2 linked regions of the Homo sapiens genome follow. The protein of the gene in region 1 interacts with the protein of each later gene in a pairwise test. Each region holds a gene or a part of one and is shown on either strand. Other genes may lie near its edges.

Region 1 (3,343 bases):
AATAGCAAGAGCACAGATATAAAGTTGTAAAAAAAAGGACAATGAGTTAGAGTGACTATTGTTTTAGTCCGTTCTCATGCTACTAATAAAGACATATGTGAGACAGGGTAATTTATCAAGGAAAGACGTTTAATTGACTCATAGTTCAGCATGGCTGGGAAGGCCTCGGGAAACTTACAGTCCTGACAGAAGGGGAAGCAAACACGACCTTCTTCACATGGTGGCAGGAGAAAGAATGACAGTCAAGCAAATGGGGAAGCCCCTTATAAAACCATCAGATCTCATGAAAACTTACTATCACAAAGACACGGTGGGGGAAACCACCCCAATGATTCAATTGTCTCCATCTGGTCCCTCTCATTACACGTGGGGATTATGAGAACTATAATTCAAGGTGAGATTTGGGTGGGGACACAGCCAAACCATATCAACTATGAAAAGCAAAACTATAATGATAGAACTTCTATACACATTTGAGGAAACACTTAAAATTATTGAAACTAAACAATTAACACATTTCAAGATAAAAATGCATAAGCTTATTTCAAAACATCAGAAAACACAAATATACTTTTAATGCTAATAAAGTTATTTAAAAATCACTTTGTTGTGAGAACACTTAAAATCTACTCTCTCAGCAATTTTCAAGAATACAATACATTGTTATTAACTATAGTCACCGAGTTGTACAATATGTCTCTTGAACTTATTCCTCCTATTATAACTATTATAACTGAAGTTTCATATCTTTTGACTAACAACTACCCAATTCCTCTACTTTCCCCCACCTTACCTGCTGATAACTACCATTCTACTCTCTACTTCTATGAGTTCACCATTTTTACATTCTACATACAAAGGAGATCATGAGGTATCTGCCTGTGTTTGGCTTATTTCACTAAGTATAATGTCCTCCAGGTTCAACATAGGGGAAGCAATATGTATGCTAATTACCCTGATTTAGCCATTTCAAAATGTATACATATTTCAACACAACATATTGTTAATAAATATATGCAATCATTTATTTGCCAATCAAAATAAAAAAATAAACAATATATGAAATGAATAAATTTATGGTATGAAAACTAAACTGAAATAAAATTATTTGATCTTTTATTAAATGTGGTCTTAAGCAACAAAATGTGTCAGTGGTATCATTGCTGACTTGTGAGTGGGTTTTTTGTGCAACATTTTCCAACTTTTTAAAAAGTTTTTTAATTCTATAATAGTTGTGGTAATATTTTCATCCACCTTCTTCCTGTAAATAATTGTATCTGTCATTTACTAATTTGAGAAGCTCTTTCCGTGTAAGTGGATTGTTTGTTTCTCTGGAACTGCAACTGGTTTAACCAACATATTTTTTAAAGAAGGCATTTTGAATTAGTTTTTAATCTTCTTTGGTATCAATATCAAGTTTCATACTGCCATGGTCATAGTTTGTGTATTCTGCAAGTCTTTGAACTGTAGTAAAATTTATTCTTGTGACATAAGCTTTCCCTTGTCAATTGCCTTTCTCTTCTTCCTGTTGAGGATGATGGTGGTAAGAAGAATGCTTTCTAAATGGTTATGTCTTTTATTTGAAATTTTAACGTGATATGTGGATAATGAATAGTATTGTTCTGGAATTTTCCAACATAAATTGAATATTTGATCTTTATCTCATTATTTAAAGAATTCAGAAATAATTATATGCATACAAACCCACAGTTAGATAAAGGAAATAAGTTCTAATGTTTAACATAGGATGACTATAGTTAACAGCAATGTATTGTATATTTCAAAGTAGATTGAAGGAGGACTTGAAATGTTCTCAACACATGGAAATAATAATTATTCTGGATGATGAAAACTATGACTTGATCATTAAACATTCTATGCACATAACAAAATATTACACATTTTTTACAAATATTATGTATCAATAAAAAAGAAATAATTGTGATACACCAATAAAACTACCAATATTTTATTACTTAGAAATATCACAGTATAAAATTATATGTAATCATAAAATATAAGGATGTGTTTTATTTCCTTTTTCCTAATGATAACAGGATATGACAGATGACCTTGATCACTATACCAATACTTACCAAATCTACTCCAAAGATCCCCAAAACTGTCAGGAATTCCTTGGATCACCAGAACTCATCAACTGGAAACAGCATTTACAGATTCAAAGTAAGTAAGAGGAATGGGATGTGTGCTGACTCACTTATGTGTCCTGAGCAAGTTTTCATATGACTTATACCTCCTTCCTCCAAGCTCCAGACTCCCAGCCTGCTGTCAATTTTGTTACTGTGTGGTAACTATATCTGTAAAAGGTGGTGGACAGCGTGGGAAACCCTAAAATTTGCAAAGAATGGGCTTCATAAAGGGAACTATAGTATAATTCCTTGGTACCAAGGATTTATGACATATTTTGCAGCTGTATCCAGACCTTTTAGGGTGATTGGATGCTGAAGAAGAGCCTTCCCTCTGGACTTCTATTCCTGTAATAAAAATGATAGCTTATTTGGCCATAGAATACTTCCCAGGTCACCAAGAACAACTATCATGGTTCCAACTATGCTCTCTGGAGATTCTCTAGGATGGCATTTGCCTATTACTTGCTGTATAATCTTAGTTAAGTGATTTAATCTCTCTGAGATTATGTTCCTCATATATAAAAATGAGGAAAATAATGTTACCTAAAACACAAGGCACTGAAAAGATTAAATGAAAGTGACTAGGAAGTGCTTAGCATAATACTTAGACATATTAGTTAATGTTTGCTGCATAGCAAACCTAATAATTCTGTGAATCAACCATTTGGGCTGAGCTTTGCAAGGCAGTTCTTCCACTGGTCTTATCTGGGTTTACTCATGTAGCTGTAGTTGATGGGTGGACCATGGCTGATTGCTCTTACACGGCCTCACTCACATGCCTGAATGAGAGTTCTGCTGTTAGTTCATGACAGCTGGTGACTGTGGTGACAGCATGATGGCAACATGTGTCGCTAGCAGGCTGGCCCAGGCCTATCTTAATGGTATTGGTCTTAACATAATTGGTCTTAACCAGGAGCAAAAACAAAGGGAAAGCCCCAATGGGGCAGGCACTTTTAAGCCTCTCCTTGCATTAAATTTGCTCTTTCCATTGATGAAAGATGGTCAATGTGGCCAAGGTAAGTTGCAGCAGAGGAGGGGACTATCTGGGGAATGGATTCCAGGAGATATGTGCAAATCATGGGTCATTGCCTCATATTATTACACTAGGAATGTAGCTTAGTAGATGTTACCTACCGTTTTTTAAATTTACCTACTAGGATTATCAAAATTGCTACACAATTACGCAGCCCAGA
Region 2 (3,500 bases), on another chromosome or scaffold:
GGAAGACCAGGTGGAGGCTTATCACCTTCATAGTAAGGTACTCACTGTCCACGTCAAGAGCCAAGCCAAGGTACTGTTCCTCCAATGAGTAAACAGCACTGCTGTAGGGCTGGCCTAAGTCAGGCAGTTCAAGATAACCTGAAGGAGTCGAATAACATCTATCCAGTGGGTCCTGCAAGACTTCAGGCTCTTTCTCAGCCAGCAGCTCCCTGCTGAGCCTGGAAAAGTAGGAAAAAGTAAAGAATAAGCCAGGGGGAATCAGAAACCACACAGCCCCAGCTAGATTTCATGGCTAACATAAGGAACTGTTTAAAAAGAAAAAGGACAGATCCATTAATGAGGTAATGAATTATTGCCTTTATGTTGGGATAGACCAGGGCCAGGTAGAAAAGAATGAAAGAGAAAGACAGGGAGAGGGAGAGAGAGAGAGAGAGAGAGAGAGAGGAGAAAGTGAGCTCAGCGAGTTGGCCGGGTGACACACTGATGAAGGGGTCAAAGGACACTCTGAGTTAGTGCCCTCGGGACACACAGCGAACAGTGATCATGAAAAGAGTGGGCTCAATAATTTTCCATAAACTTGCTCAAGATTCCATGCAGTTGCCATACAGCCTTTGAGGTATGGTCAACCTATAGTAAGTTAGTAAATGTTAAGGGGAGGAAGAAATGGAAACCTAAACATCTACTGCAATGAAAACCAACAGCCATGTCAGTAGGAGTAATTCAACCTTCGTTGAAAACATGAAATTGAACACACTCTTGTTTTCCCTGGACCTGGCATCTCCAGGTGTCAACACAGAATTAAGCATCCATAATTGCTCAAAGTTACCTGGGGCATGATGGGTCTTGGTCTTCTTCCACTTCTTGGTACTTTTCAATTTCTGCAATAAGTTCAGACATGGACAGACATATGAAGCTGGTTCTCCTACACACATAACAATCCACTGTCTAATCCTCACACAGGGACTTCAGGCTCCTCAGCATGAGAATAGGACACTGTGAGAGATATTCTTCAGGAGGCCTGAAGGCTGATCACCATAGAGATTCCTTGGTTTTTGTCCCAGAAACTGTGGGTAAAATTCCCTATTCTGGTAGATCGTTATCCCAATATCATTTGTCCCAAGTTTGTGCAAATGGTTATGCCATATTTTTCCAATCGATTTAAAGCAAATACCCCCAAATGGTTGCTAGGAGAAAAACTGCACTATTCAGCCCTGTCTCATCAAATACTCAGATTGTTCATGGTAGCGAGGATTTTAGACGCTGAAATTAGAGTGAAGGATGAAATCTACAAGATCTACAAAATTGAGACAAAATCAGAGTTGTGTGAATTTGTCACATCTGCCCAGGTCCAGTGTCATGAGAGTAGGATTAGGGCTCCACAGGCATGGCCTGAGACTAGGGAGAGAGCCTTGCTCACTGACCCATCCCTTGTCTGGGCTGCCAAGTGGAACTAGAGTTTCATTCAACCTACATGTGCCTATAGGTCCTCCCTGTGGCAATGACATCTCTCAGCTCAGTAAGGGCCACTTGCAGTAGGAATATGACCCTAACCAGAAGACTCAGTGGATCCTTATCACCTTCATAGAAAGGTACTCACCATCCATGTCAACAGCCAAGCCAACACACTGTTGCTCCAATATGTAAAAGGCACTTCTGTAGGGCTGGCATGAGTCAGTCAGTTCAAGACAACCTGAAGGAGTTGAATAACATCTATCCAGTGAGTCCTGCAAGACTTCAGGCCCTTTCTCATCCAGCAGCTCCCTGCTGAGCCTGGAAAAGTGGGAAAAAGTAAAGAATAAGCCAGGGGGAATCAGAAACCACACAGCCCCAGCTAGATTTCATGGCTAACGTTAAGGAAGAGTTTGAAAAGAAAAAGGACAGATCCATTAATGAGGTAACAAATTATTGCCTTTATGTTGGGATAGAACAGGGCCAGGTAGAAAACAATGAAAGAGAAAGACAGAGAGAGAGAGAGAGACAGAGACAGAGAGAGAGACAGAGACAGAGACAGAGAGAAAGTGACCTAGTGAATTGGCCAGGTGACATACTGGTAAGGGAGTAAAAGGACACTCTGAGTTAGTGCCCTCATGACACACAGCAAACTGTGATCATGAAAAGAGTGAGCTCAATAGTTTTCCATAAAATATGCTCAAAATTCGATGCAGTGGCCATGAGAGTACAGCTTTTGAAGTATGGTCAACCTATGGTACGCTAGTAAATGATAAGGGGAGGAAGAAATGGAAACCTAAACATCTACTGCAATGAAAACCAACAGCAATGACAGTAGGAGTAATTCAGCCTTCGTTGAAAACATGACATCAAACACACTCTGGTTTCCCTGAATCTGTTGCCTCCAGGTGTTAACACAGAATTAAGCATCCACAATTGCTGAAAGTCACCTGGGGCATGGTGGGTTTTGATCTTCTTCCCCTTCTTTTCTTCCCCTTCTTCTTTCCTTCTTTGATCTTCTTCCCCTTCTTTTCTTCCCCTTCCCCTTCTTTTCAATTTCTGCAATAAATTCAGACATGGACAGACACATTAAGCTGATTCCCCTACACACATAACAATCCACTGTCTAATCCTCACACAGGGACCTCAGGCTCCTCAGCATAAGAATAGGACACTGTGAGAGATATATTTCAGGAGGCCTGAAGGCTGGTCATGATAGAAATTCCTCGGTTTTTCTCCCAGAAACTGTGGGTAAAATGTCCCTATTCTAGTAGATCGTTATCCCAATATCATTTGTCCCAAGTTTGTGCAAACAGTTATGCCATATTTTTCCAATCAATTTAAAGCAAATACCCTCAAATGATTTCTGGGAGAAAAACTGCAATATTTAGCCCTGTCTCATCAAATACTCAGATTGTTCATGGTTGTGAGGACTTTAGACACTGAAATTAGAGTGAAAAAGGAAATCTACAAACCCTTGAGTCAAAATCATAGTTCTCTGAATTTGTCACATCTGCCCAGGTCCAATGTCATGAGAGTAGAATCAGAGTGCCACAGGTATGGCCTGAGACTAGGAAGAGAGCCATGCTCACTGACCCATCCCATGTCTGGGCTTCCAGGTAGAACTAGAGTTTCATTCAACCTACATGTGCCTATAGGTCCTCACTGCGGCAATGACATCTCTCAGCTCAGTAATGGCCACTTGGAGCAGGAATATGATCTTTATATGGAAGACTCAGTGGATGCTTATCACCTTCATAGAAAGGTACTCACCTCCCACGTCAAGAGAAAAGCCAACATGTTTTTCCTCCAATGCATAAAAGGAACTTCCATAGGGCTGGCAGGAGTCAGGCTGTTCAAGACAACTGGAAGGAGTTGAATAACATCTATCCAGTGAGTCCTGCAAGACTTCAGGCTCTACTACCTCCAGCAGCTCCCTGCTGAGCCTGGAAAAGGAGGAAAAAGTAAAGAATAAGCCAGGGGAAATCACACACAACAGAGCCCCAACTAGGTTTCATGGGTAGCATAAGGAAGTGGTTAAGAAAGTAAAA

What was found.
Region 2: the proteins of GLYAT (region 1) and NBPF19 interact in a two-hybrid assay, tested with the Homo sapiens proteins (one large-scale study listed by BioGRID).

Annotation. Positions count from the first base shown.
Region 1 is NC_000011.10:58,711,601-58,714,943, reverse strand, and holds part of GLYAT (glycine N-acyltransferase), read left to right. Parts: intron 1-2,057; coding exon 2,058-2,184; intron 2,185-3,343. UniProt on the Homo sapiens protein: Mitochondrial acyltransferase which transfers an acyl group to the N-terminus of glycine and glutamine, although much less efficiently.
Region 2 is NC_000001.11:149,548,045-149,551,544, reverse strand, and holds part of NBPF19 (NBPF family member NBPF19), read right to left. Parts: intron 3,396-3,500; coding exon 3,223-3,395; intron 2,509-3,222; coding exon 2,400-2,508; intron 1,771-2,399; coding exon 1,598-1,770; intron 879-1,597; coding exon 827-878; intron 219-826; coding exon 46-218; intron 1-45.